2 linked regions of the Homo sapiens genome follow. The protein of the gene in region 2 purifies or fractionates together with the protein of the main gene of each other region. This does not show direct contact. Each region holds a gene or a part of one and is shown on either strand. Other genes may lie near its edges. The genes, in order: GALNT2 and SLC25A4.

Region 1 (9,151 bases), on a different chromosome or scaffold from region 2:
CTTTTTGGTTTTTTTTCTTTTTTGAGACGGAGTTTCGATCTCGTTGCCCACACTGGAGTGCAATGGCGTGATCTCAGCTCACCACAACCTCCACCTCCCGGATTCAAGCGACTCCCCTGCCTCAGCCTCCTGAGTAGCAGGGATTACAGGCATGCGCCACCACACCCAGCTGATTTTGTATTTTTAGTAGTACATTTCTCCATGTTGGCCAAACTGGTCTTGAACTCCTGACCTCAAGTGATCCACCCGCCTCAGCCTCCCAAAGTGCTGGGATTATAGACGTGAGCCACCGTGCCTGGCCATTTTTAAACTTCTTAAAAGTACAGATTATACAATACACCTATTATACAGAAGTCAGATTTTTCACATAGGGAATCTGATTTCTGAGAAAACTTTAATAGAAGGCAAAATAACAAGTAATGCTTCTGACCAAATTATCTTCTCTCAAAAACTATGTTTCTTCACAAATGTTGAAACTTCATTTTTGTTCTTTATTAAAACAAAAATGTGATCTTGTACAATAAGCTTTACAAAATCAAACAAAAATATGGATATATGTGCTTTTTCCTGGGGCAGCATGAGATTCTTTATATAGACATATCAGACGCCCCACACCAAAGCCATTGATACCTACCAGCAAACAGTGAGATTTCAGAAAACAGTATGTTAAAGTACTCAAGACATTGCACTCTTTGTTAGAAGAGAAACATTTTCAAATTGTATTTCACAGCCCAGGAGCCTGTATTCTCAAGATTTGGAAAAGAAGCTGATCCAGGGTTTCATTATTTTGGGGCAGCATGGATCTGATTAAAAAGCCCTGCTGTTGACCTTCAGCCAGGTTGCTCTTTACCTCAGTTGACTCATCTGAAAGATAAAGAAGTGGAATTATATCACTGTATTTCTGAGGTCTCTTTCCAGCTGCAGTTTCTCTTAATCTCCTATACAGGTTGAATATCTTTTATCCAAAATGCTTGAGACAAGAAATATTTTGGATTTTTGACTTTTTCAGGATATGGAATATTTATATGTACTACCTAATGAGATATCTTGGGGCTGGGACCTAAGTCAAAGTACAAAATTTGTTTGTTTTATATAGACCTTATACACATAGCCTGAAGTTAATTTAATACAATACTTTTCATAATTTTCTGCATGAAACAAAGTTTGTGTACATTAAACCATCAGAAAGCAAAGGCGTCACTGTGACCGCCCACTGGATTCACCTTGCCCGCTGCCCAGATGGAGCTGACTTACCAAGATGGGAATTGCAATAGAGAAAGAGTTTAGTTCACACAGAGCTGGCTAAGTGGGAGACTGGAATTTTATTACTTAAGTCAATCTCCCCCAAAATTCAGAGGCTAGGGTTTTTCAAGGATAATCTGGAGGGAGCTGGGGACTAGGGAGTGGGTGCTGCTGATTGGATGAGGTGCAATCATAGGGGTGTGGAAAATGGTCCTTGTGCCTGCCGAGTCTGCTTCTGCATGGATGGGTCCACAGGACAAGCTGGAGATCTGGATGGAGTCATCAGAAGTGCAGAAGCCTGAAAAGACATTACAAAAGGCCAATCTTACGTTCTGCAATGGTGATGTTATCTGCAGGAGTAATTGGGGAAGTTGCAAATCTGTGGCTGATTTGTTAGTCCAACAAAGGCAGTCTGGTACCCAGACAAAAAGAGGGTTTGTTTGGGGAAAGGGCTGTTACCATCTTTGTTTTAAAGTTAAACTATAAACTAAGTTTCTCCCAAAGTTAGTTCTGCCTATGCCCAGGAGTGAACAAGGGCAGTTTAGACGTTAGAAGTTAGATGGAGTCAGTCAGGTCAGATGCCTTAAACTGTCAATTTTGTCATTGTTAAATTTTTTGCAAAGGCAGTTTCGTCACTATCTCATGTTGGTGCTCAAAAAGTTTTGGATGTTAGGACATTTTGGATTAGGGATGCCCAACTTGTAATAGATGACATTTAATATTTATTTAATACTTATTTAATACTACCTAAATACTTGCAAATACCTGCAAAAACAAGGAGGGCCTGGACAAAAGTGAGTCTCCCTCGGTGCCACTGTATCTGCAGCACTGAGACTGTTTGGTGTAGATACCAAATAAATACCTGAGTGAACCAATAAATAAATGAATAAAAGGAGCTAGCACTGAGTAGCACATGGAGATCATTCCTTGGGGCTGCCTAGTTATCCTTTTCTATTACAAAGACAGAAAAGAGTTGCTTTGCGTTTAGGAATTTTTAAGTGATTTAGTCACTTAAAAACTTGAGTGATTTGAAAACAGTATGACTGGAGTTGATAAAACCTTTAAATCATTAAGGCTGAAAGGAACCTAGGACATTCTGGAATCAAATCCTTTCATGTCCCTGTTGGGGAAATCCAGGTGCCAGATGTTACAAGTATTTAAGTTAATAACTGGTTAAAAACTGACTAGGCATAGGTTAAGGCATAGGTCACTTAGCAAAACCCCACTAACAATGTTTAGTGGCTCTTCTGAGAAATGATATGTATGATCCAGTATCCCCCAGCACTTTAAGTACTCATTGTTGTATCTGTATATTTTTTAATAGAGAGAAAGTAAAAATTCATCAGTCTCATCACCAAACCAGTTGTGCCATAACACTCTCATAATTTGATGAATTCGTCTGTCAGTATCTATTTCTGTCTCTCTCTCTTGTTTGCTCACTGGCTCTCCTTCTGCCTCTACACACATATCCACTATATGCAATTCTGCAAACTATTTTATTTTCCCACAAGTCCAGGACATCATTTCTGTCAACATGTAAGATGCACACTCATGTTTTTAGTGGTCACAGAATATTTCATTTGATTCCTTCCTCATATTTAGTCATAAAGTTTCTCTTTTTTTTTTTTTTTTTTGCTATTATAAACAAAGCAGAAGTGAGCATATTTTCACATGTATATTTCATTCCTAATTGATTGCTGCCTTGAGATAAATTTCTAGAAGTAGAGCTGCTGGGTCAGAGAATAGGTGCATTCATATGTTCTTATCTGTGTTGAATGGCATTATGGATAATAGTCCATATTCTACTTACTAAAATGAAAAAGTATATATATCACCTTATATGAAAGATATAGGCCCCATACAGAAATTATTTTAATAATGGTATCTCAGATCAGTTGAAAGTTTCGCCATTTTAAGGAATTATTTTAAAAGGCGAGCATTACCTCCTTACTGTATTTATTTTGGAAGAACACAGTGCCTTCCTATGGGGTTCTTAAGGAGGGCTAGCTATAGCCTGAAGTGGGAGTCCACCTTATAGCCGAGACCAGAATATGGGAGCAAAGAGGTTAGCTGTGTGCTTGCTACTTCATGGATGCTTTAAGATAATTCTTGGCAGAATACACTGCTGATACCTATGCAGATGATAGCTTTTAATGCATGTCAGACATTCAAGAGTAGCTTGTCCCAGGGGCTTTATTTATGGCAAATCATGGTTCTCTCTATGAGATTTAAGTACATGGTTTTCTTTCCTTCTAGAAAAGCCGGCTGGGCGCGGTGGCTCACGCCTGTAATCCCAGCACTTTGGGAAGCTGAGGCGAGTGGATCACAAGGTCAAGAGATCGAGACCATCCTGGCTAATGTGGTGAAACCGTCTCTACTAAAATTACACAAAAATTTTAGCTGGGTGTGGTGGTACATGCCTATAGTCCCAGCTGCTCAGGAAGCTCAGGCAGGAGAATCGCTTGAACCCGGGAGGCGGAGGTTTCAGTGAGCCGAGATCTCGCCACTGCACTCCAGCTTGGCAGCAGAGCGAGACTCCATCAAAAAAAAAAAAAGCTAGTGCAAACATGGCAGTCTTTCAGCTTAGCCCCGCAGAAAAGAAAGTGATTTTCCCAGGAACTCTTATCTTATGTAGTCTGAACTTTAATGCAGAGCTGTCTGATAGTGTCGTAGCCGTGACGGAGAAGGCCGTGGGGCCTGGAATCTCCTTGCTGTGCTCTGTGGCCCCGGCCCTCTGTGGACGCGTAATGTGAGAGTTTTTAAAGAGTAACTTTCTTTTGTCCTTCTTTAAGATATAGACCCCAGTCCCTCCTTTAAAATATTGGCTCGTGCTGTAATTTCCACTTTGCCTTTTGCCCTTTGACCATCTGTGTGACAAGAAAGCCATTCCAATGGTTCAGTAAGCACCCGCTGAGGCTGGCTCCCCACAGGTCCAGCTCGAGGTGCTGGTGGGGACAGCCCACCCTCTGCTGTGTGCCGTGATCCCAGCTGGAGCTGCTGCACACCCAGAGGGAGCCGCCTCAGTCACACGCCAGCAGACAGGTGCAAATGGAGTGATGCAGACAGAAAGAAAGGAAATCACACCTCAAGATTTATTTTCTTTCTAGAAACACCCGCCGGGCAGCAGAGGTCTGGATGGATGAATACAAAAATTTCTATTATGCAGCAGTGCCTTCTGCTAGAAACGTTCCTTATGGAAAGTAAGTGGCAGTTCTGCCTTCTCACAATTACTGGGGATTCTTGGGGTGTGGGGGTGGGAGGTAAGGGGCTGCCCCCAGCGTTGAATTCAGCTACCCAGGTGCCAAGGCGGGAAGGGGTTGTGGGCACAGGAGCATGGGCAGTCCACACCACACCACCTGCCCCAACCCTGTTCTCCTCAGCAGATTTTCAAGTTTGATGTAGAAAGCCCATCTATTCTTAAAATTTATAAAGGAATCTTATTTCCCTCTTCTCCAGTATTCAGAGCAGATTGGAGCTTAGGAAGAAACTCAGCTGCAAGCCTTTCAAATGGTACCTTGAAAATGTCTATCCAGAGTTAAGGTAAGTCCCCAGGGATCTGGGGTTTCACTTTGTAAGGGCTTAGAAGCCAGTAAGGCCATAGAAGCAGCAGAGGGGAAATGGAGGTGGGGCTGCAGGCATGAGATTGGGCACCTGGGCCCCAGTGAGAGCCTGTGGTCTCACTCCATGGTGTGGAGCTGAGAATCTGCTCCCAAGTTGGCCTGCTGCTGTCTCTGTCCTGCAGAGCTGCCCTCCCATGCTTCGGAGTCCCAGAGGCAGTCCCCCGGGCCTCACCTTGTTTTTGGCTTGTTCTCCATTGGCAAGGTGATGGGCTGGGTGACCTGAAGGACTGGTGTCTGACAGGCTCTTCGAGTGACCAGGAGCAGTCCCCAGCCTCCGCAAGCATGCAGTGTCTGCAGCCAGCCCTCGATCCCCCCGCCAGGCGCCTTTGCATGCCTCCGATCTGCTGCGCTCACCCTTGCTGCTCCTGTGGGCCAGCAGATAACAGCCCCCACGAGGCTCCCTCCTCCCAGCTAGGTTAATCACATGTGAAACGGAAGTAATAATGCTGCTGCCCCACGTCCCTCCGGAGGATTCATGGCAGAAACACCTTTCTGAGCATTATTTCCACACCCAGCCTCTTGTTTTAAGCGAATACGAGCTCCCCATCTGGAGGGACCTGCTGATAACCTCGTGAGAAGACCTATAGATCCGCTGGGGTGGAGGAGCCATCTGCACTTCATCTTCTTAAAGGGACTGTCAGGCAGGTCGTGCCTTAATGCGGCACATTCCTTATTCTAAATATTCCCAGAGCATTTTACAGCGGCTCACATATCTCCAGCACAGTGCCTGCGAACGCAAGACTTGCCACCATTATCTTTCCGCTAACAGCTCCTTCAGAGCCCTTGTCACGGAGATTTGTTGGACAGTTAGGTAATGCGGCCTCTCTCTGTTGCTCCTGTTCGCTCACTTGGCTCTTTGGAACCGTTTCCTCTGCTTTTCAAGTAACATGCCAGGCGCCAGGTGGCCCATGCCCCCTAGGAGGAGAACAGGAGAGAACACAGCGTCCTTCTCCCTCGGATCCCTGCCGTGCAGGACAGCTTTTGCTGGGGATTGAGAGCACCAGATGGTCACCAGCGATGGTCACCTGCAGCGGCAAGGGTGCACTGGTCACAGTTGCTGGTTGCAGGGCCCTGGTCTTCTTCCTGCCAGCTCTGTCCTCTCGGCCATGTGCACTCAACCCAAAAGAACCCATTCTGCCTCTGTGTCTGGCCCCAGAATATGATGTCTACACCTCCTGCCTGGTGTCCCTATACAACAGATTCTTGACTGTGGGCACTAAGGCGGCTGCTCATCAACTCTCCGTCAGCCAAAGAGGGGCTTCAATTCAGTGGATTTTAACCCAACCATGCCACTCACTTTGCTTTTTCAGTCACAGTTGACTGCCATTTCTCACAGAGGTCACCCATGGTTTGTAGTGACACTGGGCCCCGCACCCACTGAAGACCACATCTGAGGCACTGAGCACCATCCTGGCTGGCAAATCTGCTTCCCCTGTCTGTGGGGGGTGAGGGAGACATCAGCCTCGTGTTTTGTGTCTGTAATATCACCGCCGTTTACTGAGTGCCTCCTACGAGCCAGGCACTGGGCCGTGTGCTTTACACGAAATGTTCTATGTAACACTTGCAGCAGATCTGGGTAGCCCATAGCCTACCAAAGGGCAAATCGAGCTTCAGAGAAAGTGAGTCTTGCCTGAAAGCCAGCACCTGGCAGAGGTGGGCTGAGGTTTGGATCTGGTTCTGAAGCACGTTGTTCTTCCCCGTGGCTGTGGCTTTGTTCACATTAGACCACCTGACAAGTCTGCCCACCTTTCCCGTCTTTACTGGATAAAGGTCAGATCCTAAGTGTATTGGAAAGTTCAAGGCAACAGGATCTGACCACATTGATTTTCTAAATGACTTCCAATAAGACTAACATTGAAGAGTATCAGGAGCTTTTCCTTCCTTTCCAAAAAAAAAAAAAAAAAAAAATGACCTGATATAGAATATAAAGAATACTTCTGCAACATACAGTCTTAAAGTGTTGGAAGTCCAGAGCCTGGGAGAAATGCCGTGTCCCTGACACACACTACCTGTGGTAGGAAGAGGCACGATGCCTAGTCACTGGGTCTTTCTCTCGTTCCTGTCACCTGTCATGAGGCCACTGAGCAAAGGGGCTGGTGGACGGGAGCTGGTGGTCATGTGCAGTGAAGCAGGTGATTCTCACGTTGTTTTTCAGGGTTCCAGACCATCAGGATATAGCTTTTGGGGCCTTGCAGCAGGGAACTAACTGCCTCGACACTTTGGGACACTTTGCTGATGGTGTGGTTGGAGTTTATGAATGTCACAATGCTGGGGGAAACCAGGTATGTGCATGGGGAAGCCAGGTCACCTGCAGGCCCAGAGAGAGCAGGAGTTGGGGGGGTCCTGATGTTAGAAGTCCCAGCTGCCACCTTTCTCCTGGGATGGGTGATGTCTATGAGGAAGCACCTGGCTCCTGCTGGCCACAGCCTCTTTGGCAGCCAGCACCAGGGCCAGATAGAATGTCACACACTTTGGTGCATCAGCTCTGTCATCAGCTTCGGACCAGGCTCTGCTGCAGCGGCAAGGGTGCACTGGTCACAGTTGCTGGTTGCAGGGCCCTGGTCTTCCTGCCAGCTCTGTCCTCTCGGCCATGTGCACTCAACCGCAAAGCACCCATTCTGCCTCTGCGTCTGGCCCCAGAATATGATGTCTACACCTCCTGCCTGGTATGCCTATACAACAGATTCTTAACTGTGGGCACTAAGGCGGCTGCTAGTTATAGCCCCTGCCTGTTAGATAATAGCTTAAGATAGAAGATACTCAGTATTAATTGCTTCCATTGCACACATACACACCTTTTCTGAGAGGCATAAAAATGCACAACCGCCAGGCGCCGTGGCGCACGCCTGTAATCCCAACACTTTGGGAGGCTGTGGTGGGTGGATCACCTAAGGTCAGGAGTTCAAGACCAGCCTGGCCGACATGGTGAAACCCATCTCTGCTAAAAATAAAAAAAAAATTAGCCAAGCGTGGTGGCGGGCACCTGTAATCCCAGCTACCCGAGAGGCTGAGGCAGGAGAATTGCCTGAACCCGGGAGGCAGAGGTTGCTGTGAGCTGAGATCACACCATTGCATTCCAGCCCAGGCTACAAGAGCAAAGCTCTGTCTCAAAAAACAAACAAACAAACAAACAGAAAAACCCACTACCTTCTCTTCTCCCATCATTGCAAAGGAGAGACAAAATGAAGGCTTGATGGGCCCAGCTGAGACTTCGGATTCTAAAAACAGTTTTCCCATGAGATAATAATAGGAATTGGGTGAAATGTGAGCTTCATGCACCAAAGGGTAATCCTGTGTGCTCTTACCCCCTTCCTGAAAACTTGCCTGGCACTGGGAGAGCCTGCAGTTTTAAAAAAGGCAGGTTAACTCCGTGTGTGTATCCTGAATGTATTGATTTCTTAACTTTCTTTAACTGGAAGTATTTTTGAAAGGGGGCATGTGCTTTTGTGTAAAGCTGGGTCCTCCTCCCAAGTGAGTGTCCAGGCAGACTGCAATCCACAAATACCTTGACTCCTTTCTTCACTTGGTGATGTGGTTTTAGCAGTTACTTGCAATGGCCTGGACATCCTAAATTAGAAGAGAGAGAGGAACCTGCCTGCCTGGGGCTTGACTGGGCCAGTCCCCATCCAGCATGGGCATGGGGCAGGTAGCCAGGGCCTGGCCCTGGTTCCCCTAAATCTCCAGCCCTTAAATAGAAGATACTTGGCGTTGATGAGTTAGAAAATGAGAGAGAGCCTCATTTTCTCGTGTGGTTTTGGTAGAGTTGATCCTGGATTCTCCGTATCAGCGTCAACAGTCTCGATGGTTCAGAATAGCTAAATGTGATGCTATGTTTGGGTAAGAGCCAATGGGTCAGGTTTGCCGACAGATATGAGTGTGCTTCCAGTGCCTGTGCACGTGTGTGACACACACACACACACACACACACACACAATAGCACATATGCTCATCACGTTCTCACACAACAGCTCTCTTCTCCTGATTCCCGGGCTCAGTCCCCCTCTCTTCCTTGTGCACATGCACCTAGACTCATGTGCTGCTTCTTTCTTCTTTTTCTGTTACTCAGATGCAGAGCTTGTTTTGCTCTCTGTTTCGTGTACATGACTTCATATCATTGATCTCTGTCCTTTTGATAAATATTGTTGGAGGGTTTTTTACTTGGCAGTACTATTTTGCTAGAGAAAGGGATTAGAAGGCAAACAAAGCAATCCCTTGCCTTCCAGAACTCACAGTTGAGCAGAGGAGCCACTGTGGGTTATGAAACAGAGGAGGCACCTGCTCACCTCTGT
Region 2 (9,774 bases):
GGCGCGTGGTCCGGGTCTTCATCTGGCCGTGCTGGCACCCGCGGCCTGGCCCGCATTCGCTTCCGGTCTTCAGTCTGTGCTCCATCAAGGGTGTTCTTTCAAGGTCACACTTTCCTTTCTTCCAACCCTGAGGCTCTTCAGGCCTGGCTTGCTGTCAGCGGACTGTGGTGGCCTTGAAAAGGAAACGTTATTCTGCTGCTCCTGCGCCACATTGGAGACATTAAGAGCAGGAAAAGCTGAACGGGGCTCTCTAGGGACCTTCACTCCAGCAGGCTGCCTTCATTTTGCGGACTATGGACACAAGCAAATCCCTCAGGTACCAGGGATCTGTTCTCCGTCTCCCTCATTGCACTTGGATCAACCCTGCAAGGCTGCCTCTGCCCTGTGTGCTGAAACACCGCCCGGCCGTTTCTTCCCCTGCATCTGTGCCTCCCTGGGCTGCGCAGAATACAGGCCCCTCCTTCCCAGGGATCCACACGAGCCTCACATTCTTTGCTTTCTCTCTAACTTTCTTCCTTTCTCTCCAGGTTTGGGAAAACTTCATATAATCTTTGTAAGAGTAGCTGAGCAGGAAGTTTTTTGTTTTTATGGAGATGGAGTTTTCGCTCTTGTTGCCCAGGCTGGAGTGCAGTGGCGTGATCTCCGCTCACCACAGCCTCCGCCTCCCGGGTTCAAGTGATTCTCCTGCCTCAGCCTCCCGAGTAGCTGGGATTACAGGCATGCGCCACCACGCCCGGCTAATTTTGTATTTTTAGTAGAGACGGGGTTGCTCCATGTTGGTCAGGCTGGTCTCGAACTCCTGACCTCAGGTGATCCGCCCGCCTCGGCCTCCCAAAATGCTGGGATTACAGGCGTGAGCCACCGTGCCCGGCTGTGTGCAGAAAGCTTTTTGTTTTCCCTCAAGTATTCTACGAAGTCCACTGGGCTTGAGTTTTTTCTCTTCCTTTGGAAATTCTAATGCCGAGAATAGACTCTTACTTCCTCTGCTTCCTGAATGTTTTCTTTTTCCTGTGGCAGTGACACAGAACGTCTAGCTGACTATGAGGAAAGGGTCATGAGGTAAAAGAACGCATATGGAAGAAAACCCTTATTCATTAAAATAGCAAAATATTGTTCTTCAGTAGTACAGATGATAAAAAATAGTCTCTGATAACATTTGTTGCCTACTGATTTTAATAATAGAAATAAAGCATGTTTTTAAAAATGATTGATAGGATATGTGAAACACAAAACACTAGTTCAAAATGTGTTTAGAAAATGGACCCAGTCAGCTCCAGGTGAGTAACGGTTTTATTCACAGAGGTTGCCCGTGGGCAAAACTGGAAGATGCCAGCCTGGAAGGTGTGTGGTTATGGTCGGAAGGCATTATTATGCAAGCATAAACATTAGCTTCGTTGTGTTGTATGATACTCAATGTGCTTGTTGGACTCTTCAACAAAGTAAAGAGAGGTGCTAAGATTGGAAGTGGGAAAAGAAAGGTTCTGAATCTGTCTGGGAAGTGCACGGGGTCCGCCTGTGTCTATCAGGGGTGTGCTACGGGGGTCCCCCAGGCCTCCCTGCCTCCAGCAACCAAGAGGCCAACCTGAATCAGTTTCCCCCGGAAGCAGAGTGCCTTCTAGGAGAAGTCCCTCTGTCTTTTCTATGATTCAAGGGCTCCTCTGCCCCCTCAAATCACCTCCTTTAAATAATAAGGCGCCAAATCCTTCTAACAAAACTTTTTGTTTCACGAACATTCATAAAACGTAAAAAGTACAAGTTCCGGTGGAGGCAACACACTGAAAGTCACTCTGCTGGAAGTACAACCAGAACCCCCTCTTGGGTCCTTGTCCTTGCCAGGCTGCGTTGGAATTGCCTGTAGGCACCACAGCTATGTCTGTTCCTGGCATGTAAGCTTCTCCACATAGCCTGGGCAACATAGCAAAACCAGGAGACCACAGCAAAACCTGCAAATTAAAAAATATATATATCCGGGCATGATGGTATGTGCCTGTAGCCTCAGCTACTCAGGAGGCTGAAGCAGGAGGATCCCTTGTGCCTAGGAGTGCATGGTTTCAGTGATCTGTGATTGTGCCACCGTGCTCCAGCCAGGGTGACAAAGCAAGATGCTGTCTCTAAAATAAATAAATAAATAAATGCACATATAAATATCTTGATCCTCTTCGCTTAATGCTGAAACTTACCATGTGAACAAACACTAGTAGTGTGTTCTAATTCCTAATACTTTAAATGTACACTTGCACACAGGCATTATGTTATCACCACCATTAGCACATCCTTTATTGTTTTTCTTTATTCCTTGTCACTCTTACTCTTTAGCAACTTCCATTCTCTATTCCCAGTTTGGTAAGAGACTAAGTCTATAAGAGCTTCCACTAAAATTCCAAAAGGCTAACTTTCCACCCTGCTCTCATTTCTACATGGCCCTGTTCCCACCAGCATCTAAGATCCCATCCACGATTGAAAGTAGAGTTTCTTCTCATCTCCTAGATGCCTTGTCCATTCTCCTGCTGGAAGAAAGCCACTAAGTACTGGGTTGGGCGGGTGGACACATGTTCTGCCGAGCGCCATTCTCTCCCCTGCCTGTGTAAGTGATACCAGGATCTTGTGACCACAGGCAGCTCATGCTCCCGAGGGCATGTAAGGCCTCTCTTTTCTGAGAAAGTCCGTGGAAGCAGAGGACAGTGTATGAGTTTCCATGGAAAACCTCTTGTCAAGGATTCCAGCTATGACTCCTTCTATAGAACAGGATAACTGGAGAGTAGCCAAGGAGAAATATATCTCCCATTTAGAAAATATCCAAAACTCTGATTGGTAAAATTAAGTGTAACAAAGATGATACTACTTCCTGAATTCATATATTAATTAATATTTAATTTAGTTTAAATGTCTATTTAAAATCTTCTGGTGATGTTTAAACAATTGAACAACTTGATAGTAAAAATAAATCCAGACACATAAGCAGATAAAACTTTATTTTTTAAGTGATTGTAGAATCATATATCAGCCTATTTTTAAAAAATGAAGATCAAATAAATATGTCATAGTGTGGATATTTCATAAATTAAAGCTATTATGAGAACTTAATATATGACAAACTAGACTTAGTAATATAAGACAAATAATGGAGAGAAGAAAATATCTACTTAAGAATTAGTATTGGGATACCCAAGCATGATATGGAGAAAAGTGAAATTAGACCCATACCTCCATACAATATAAAACGTAGTGTTAGACATTTTAAAAATAGCTACTCAAAGTAGAAGAAAAAAACTGATATATGTACTAGAGTAAATAGACTGCTATATCTATAAAAGAGATACATTTACATCAGAACATGAAATAGATCATCATCATACCATAGATCTGTTCATAACACTAATAGAATGATATAATAAATATCAAAAGGAAAACAACAAAATGAAAAACATTCAACACATATTTATTGTCCCAAATATATAAAGAATTGTTGTTAATATAAATACTCTGCTTTCACTCCAGCAGTAGTCAAGGAAGATTAAAAGTTTATACAAAAGGGAAACCTTGTCAAACTGTCAAATTAAATTGAATCATATGGAATATATACAGCTTCATAGTAATTAAGTAAATACAAACTAAAACTCATAAATAACTCACAAATAACCAACTCTCTATTTTTTTAAAGCCAGTGTTGGAGAAGAGTGTGAGAGAAAGCCCATCTATATAACTGGTGGGTTGGTATTTCTGAAGAGCAATTTGTCAATATGTAGCAAAAGCTACAAAACTTTAAAAATCTTAAATCTATCCATTCCATTTGGGAAATATATGAGAAGAAAAAACTTAGAGGAGAAAATGAAGTTTGTGTAAGTTTCAATGTAGCAGTATTAGTTTTCCTTCCTTCCTTCCTTCCTTCCTTCCTTCCTTCCTTTCTTTCTTTCTTTCTTTCTTTTTTTTTTTTTGAGTCAGAGTCTTTCTCTGTTGCCCAGGCTGAAGTGCAGTGGAGTGATCTCAGATCACCATGACCTCTGCCTCTCGGGGGTCTCGTGCCTGAGCCTCCTGAGCTGCTGGGATTCCAGGCATGAGCCATCACGCCAGGCTAATTTTTGTATTTTTAGTAGAGATGGGGTTTTGCCATGTTGGCCAGGCTGGTCTCGAACTCCTGACCTAGGTAATCTGCCAGCCTCAGCCTCCCAAAGGTATGAGCCACCACACCCGGCCTATTTTTCATCATAAAAATAAGACACAATTCTAATGCACAATTAAAAGGAAAATGGAGGTATAAAAGCAAGTGCTCTATATTACAGGATGGGATACAGTACACTATTATAATTAAAAAGGTTTACTGTGTGGATTATGCTGATCCATGGAAATCAGTAAGTGAAGTTTTGATAAAGTGGAGCAAGTGACGAATACACTGAACTGTAAGGTCTTTGGAGATGGGCCACGTCTACTTATATTCAATCCACAGGGCTACACCTAGTTCTTGGTACACAGTACATGCTCAGCAAGAGTCTGTTGAATGAACACATACATGGTTTATCTGTTTGTCTCTTCCGAGTTCTTGACTTCTGTCTGCTCTGACCTCTGGCAGCTTTCCACTAGTTTCTAGCTTTCATTCTGCTTACCTGGATTTCGGAACTCTAGCCTGCCCCACTCTTAGATAAACGCATGCCCTCTGTGGCCCTGGAACCTTAGTGACTTCTGCTATACCAAAGTCTCCACGCCCAGGGTGACACGCAGCTGCAGCTCCGTAAACCTCTAACATGATGTCAGCAAATATTAAAAAAAAAAAGTTTATAAAACAATGAATAAACTTTGTTAAAGGTACAAATGAAAATTAGCAAACATGGGAAGATAATTGAGTGAAGAGTTTAAAGTTAAAAACGAATTGCAGTCATTCTAGGGGAAGGAACAGTTGTATTTGAAAACCTGTATGGTTACATGAACTGCCTAAAAAACAAGCTAAGGAAAATTAAAGCTCAGATTTATATATTTTAAGAAATTAATTGCAATTAATTTCCTGGGATTAAATAGCATTTCCTCAACCCCAGCTGTCATTAAAAAGAGGCAAATACAGCCAAGGACTGGATCTCCGGAAGGCTGACAGCACTGACCCTCAAGAAGGCACCGGCTGACAGACAGAACATTCTGCCCTAATATGTGCTGAAATTCCGCTGAGAGCAGAGTGGTACATTGAACCCTTTAGGGGCTTACAAAAGAAGTGTCCTGTGTTTTAGAGTCACAGAGTTTTGCAGAAACAAGTATGAATTCACCTAGTGGCCCCCTGCACCAGGTCTTTCCTGTGGGCACTGAGTGCCAGACACATCAATATGTAATAGCAGAATGAATGACTGAACGAACGATTGAATGAAAAGAAATGAGAGGCAGCAGGTTGTCAGATTCTATGAGGCAATCACAGCATCAGGTGACCTTAGTATCTATTTGAGAGGACTGCCATTTATTCTCGGGAGCGCACGGCTCTAAAGAGGCCCATATCCAGGCAGTGAGCTCTGGTGGGGGGCGCCTTTAGATGCAAGAAGGAGGAAACAGCTCGAAATCCCTGGGCCTGAGCGCGGCCCGTGCAGGCCGGAGGGTCAAGAACTCTCCACCGGCGGCAGCGGCCCGGTGTCTGCCCCGGCTTCGCCCCGGCCTAAGGCTGCCTGTGCTATAAATACGCGGCCCACATGCCGCGGTGACACGGTGTTCCCTGGGCTCGGCGGGACAGATAACATGAATGTGCCCTTTAAACGTCCCAAGTTGCAGGGACAGCCCCCGGCCCAGCCTCGCTCCCGGAAGCGCCTTCGCCCCCGATGCCCTCTGCAGCTGGGAGGAGGGGGCGCCCCGCACCTGCCCAGCCAATGCGCGGCGCGAGCGCCGGCCGCGACCCGCCTCCTCTCGCGAGAGCCCGGCGGGGATATAAGGGGGAGCTGCGGGCCAGGCGGCGGCCCCCTAGCGTCGCGCAGGGTCGGGGACTGCGCGGCGGTGCCAGGCCGGGCGTGGGCGAGAGCACGAACGGGCTGCCTGCGGGCTGAGAGCGTCGAGCTGTCACCATGGGTGATCACGCTTGGAGCTTCCTAAAGGACTTCCTGGCCGGGGGCGTCGCCGCTGCCGTCTCCAAGACCGCGGTCGCCCCCATCGAGAGGGTCAAACTGCTGCTGCAGGTGAGGACCGCGCGGTGCAAGAGGCGGGCGCGGGCGCGGCGGGCCGGGCGGGGCGCGCGATGCGGCGCGAGCTGCAGGGCGCGGGGCGCCGCGGAAAATCTGCGCCAGGCCACAGGCCCGGGCGCCCGCCCGCCCGCCCGCCCGCCCGCGGGGGAAGAAGGTGCCCTCTGCGTAGAGACAGGTCCAGCGTCAGTCGCAGATTCCTGGTGTCGGGTGGCGCCCGGCGTTCGGGTGTCTATATATGGAAACCCACCCGGAGCCGGTTTACGTGTGCCAGATCCTGCGCCCGTGACAGCACGGGCGTGCACTCAGGCCCGGAGGCACCTAGTGATTGCCAGTATTTTTGGCACCGTCTTATGCGCACGCACCTTTACAATAAAAACATCAAAATAATCATCACCCAAGAATTCCCTTATCGTATCTCATGCACAATGCTGTATGTAGGCTGACGCCTTCATCTTTATGTAACCTCTGTGAGAGAGTTATTCTTCTCCATTTTACAGATGAAGCTGAGGTTTTGAAATATTAAGAAACAATTTTCGGAATAAACTCAGATCATCCTGTCTCCAAATCTTTTCCTCCCCTACCTGGTCGCTGAATGGTTTATCATCCTCTCGTGTTTTCCTCCACCTGCCCAAAAGGTCAGGGCCCCTCAATGAGGAAGAGCCCAATTTGGGAGTCAGAATTACTAACAACAAAACCCCCACAAATTGCTCACAACGGCAGCAAACCCTTAATAATTGATTACTTGGATTATCTGCTTGAAAACTTTGGAGGCCTAATGTTTAGTGGATTTATTCTCCTTCCTCTATTAGAGCATCTAGTAGAGATCCTCATCTCCAGGGTGATCAGAGTGACACTGAGAAATTGTCATTTTTTGGCCATCATGTCTATTAAATCCAAAGCCCTTTGAAGCAGGGAGTGTTACTCATTTCTGTCCCCCAGTAAGCCCCTCATACAGTTCTCAAACCTAGGGAAAGTGAAATAAATAAATGGCTATAGCTTTATATAATTCAATCACCTTTTCAGTTTATTTGGGGCAATACCTTTTCCCTCAAATACCCTAATAATTGAAGCAACATTGGATTATTTTGGCTTGTTATCCAGTAACTAACATGGATAACAGTATCCATTTACACGTCCTCAGTATCCATTTGATTTCCTCATCCTTTTTTTCTTCAAAAAAAAAATCTAGGAAGTGCAAACCTTTTTTTTTCTCCTGTCCTCTTCCCTTCTCTCTACCCTGCCTGTCCTCTGTCACCCACCCTCCCCTCCACCAGGTCCAGCATGCCAGCAAACAGATCAGTGCTGAGAAGCAGTACAAAGGGATCATTGATTGTGTGGTGAGAATCCCTAAGGAGCAGGGCTTCCTCTCCTTCTGGAGGGGTAACCTGGCCAACGTGATCCGTTACTTCCCCACCCAAGCTCTCAACTTCGCCTTCAAGGACAAGTACAAGCAGCTCTTCTTAGGGGGTGTGGATCGGCATAAGCAGTTCTGGCGCTACTTTGCTGGTAACCTGGCGTCCGGTGGGGCCGCTGGGGCCACCTCCCTTTGCTTTGTCTACCCGCTGGACTTTGCTAGGACCAGGTTGGCTGCTGATGTGGGCAAGGGCGCCGCCCAGCGTGAGTTCCATGGTCTGGGCGACTGTATCATCAAGATCTTCAAGTCTGATGGCCTGAGGGGGCTCTACCAGGGTTTCAACGTCTCTGTCCAAGGCATCATTATCTATAGAGCTGCCTACTTCGGAGTCTATGATACTGCCAAGGGTGAGAGAGGGGCATCGGGGAGAAGGAGGGTGGTGTGGAAAGAGGATCCTATGGGATCTATAACTCACAAAGGACCTGATATATATTGATCTTGTTTTTTCTAGTCTCTGGGATAATTGAGGCTTCTGAATGAGGAGGTGATGTGCATAAGTTAATAGCTGAAGCGTTCCTTGTGTCCTCTACTGAAATAAACTCTGGCCTTTAGTTATTCAGAGAGGAGGAGGGGGGAGCCTGTCTCCCTCTAGACACAGCCATAGCAGTTACTGAGTTTAACTTGAAGCCACTTCCAATGCCCTGTATACAAGCTGAGCACTGCCCCTCCGGGGTCCGGAGAGGGCAGCAGCCACCTTTGCTGTCTGCCTGGTCATATGTGAAGCACCTGCACAGGGGCAGGTTCCCCGCAAGGTCAGAGCATGGAGCTGGAGGTGCAGTGGCCTCTCTCCCTCCACCTGCTTTCTGCTGAGAACAGGCACTTCATAGCCGTTCGGCTTCTGGGCTCTGTCCACAGGGATGCTGCCTGACCCCAAGAACGTGCACATTTTTGTGAGCTGGATGATTGCCCAGAGTGTGACGGCAGTCGCAGGGCTGGTGTCCTACCCCTTTGACACTGTTCGTCGTAGAATGATGATGCAGTCCGGCCGGAAAGGGGGTAAGCTTGTGCTCTACTCATCTAAACTTGTTTGGTTTTGCCCGAGGAGAACATTTTACAGGGCTCCTTTCAGTCTTCCTTACTGGAAATTAATTTTCAAAATTATTTGATAAGGACTTAGGGAAGAAAGATGGTATTAATTCCCCCTAACGTTCTCAACTATCCTATTAGGGAAAAGTATTTTCCATTTTATTAGAGATGATAAGAACATGAATAGTAAGACATTTAGATGTGAATTTAACTAGGTATCCAGCATTATAGAGACCCTAGGCCCTCTTCCCTTAGAGCCTGGGTGCAAAAGCTAGGGAAAAGAAGTAGTTAGCTACTTCTTACAAAGAACTCTTGCTTCCCTCCTAGTTACAGGTGTTAGTGGGATGGGGTGTTTAGCTGGGTAGAGATGGCCTGAAGCAATCTGTTGTGCCAGAGAAAGTTTTGGCTTCTATAGGTTGAACCATACGAAATTGCCACTTTAAAAGTCAAAAACAGTCCAATGTTAGCAGTTTCGTATGTTTCAACGAATAGTTACAGCCTTTTATTTAGACTGCATAACCTCGTGCAGGATCATCTGAGGCTCGGCCTCAGTTCGGTCCTCCATAAAAAAAGGTAACCGCGTAGCATAATACTCCTGCTCCACTGCGCCCTTCTTGTTTCGCAGTTGGGCAGTCCATGAATTACTTGGTTAATTGCCCCAGTTCTTCACTGACCTTGAACTAATGGAGTAGGAATGACAGGAGACCCAGCCTGCCAGTGAAGCAAGGAAGGAGATGTCCAGTGGGATGTTGCATGGAGCTGGGACTCCATGCCCAGATGACCCTGATTTTATAAAACTGGTAACAGTGTGTACAGATATGTTTCAGGGGAAAAGTCTCTTTCCTCCAGCGTTACGGAGCCCTCACCAGCATTTGTTTCCACAGCCGATATTATGTACACGGGGACAGTTGACTGCTGGAGGAAGATTGCAAAAGACGAAGGAGCCAAGGCCTTCTTCAAAGGTGCCTGGTCCAATGTGCTGAGAGGCATGGGCGGTGCTTTTGTATTGGTGTTGTATGATGAGATCAAAAAATATGTCTAATGTAATTAAAACACAAGTTCACAGATTTACAGTGAACTTGATCTACAAGTTCACAGATCCATTGTGTGGTTTAATAGACTATTCCTAGGGGAAGTAAAAAGATCTGGGATAAAACCAGACTGAAAGGAATACCTCAGAAGAGATGCTTC

What was found.
Region 1: the proteins of SLC25A4 (region 2) and GALNT2 fractionate together in Homo sapiens (co-fractionation; 2 studies listed by BioGRID). This does not show direct contact.

The regions. Positions count from the first base shown.
Region 1 is NC_000001.11:230,258,224-230,267,374, forward strand, and holds part of GALNT2 (polypeptide N-acetylgalactosaminyltransferase 2 precursor), read left to right. Parts: intron 1-433; exon of another isoform or gene 434-864; intron 865-1,254; exon of another isoform or gene 1,255-1,358; coding exon of another isoform or gene 1,359-1,540; intron 1,541-4,349; coding exon 4,350-4,442; intron 4,443-4,698; coding exon 4,699-4,782; intron 4,783-7,017; coding exon 7,018-7,144; intron 7,145-9,151. Other genes in the region: uncharacterized protein LOC124904542, read right to left, coding at 1,359-1,540. UniProt on the Homo sapiens protein: Catalyzes the initial reaction in O-linked oligosaccharide biosynthesis, the transfer of an N-acetyl-D-galactosamine residue to a serine or threonine residue on the protein receptor.
Region 2 is NC_000004.12:185,137,347-185,147,120, forward strand, and holds the start of SLC25A4 (ADP/ATP translocase 1), read left to right. Parts: upstream 1-5,919; 5' UTR 5,920-6,026; coding exon 6,027-6,137; intron 6,138-7,417; coding exon 7,418-7,904; intron 7,905-8,412; coding exon 8,413-8,553; intron 8,554-9,467; coding exon 9,468-9,625; 3' UTR 9,626-9,774. UniProt on the Homo sapiens protein: ADP:ATP antiporter that mediates import of ADP into the mitochondrial matrix for ATP synthesis, and export of ATP out to fuel the cell.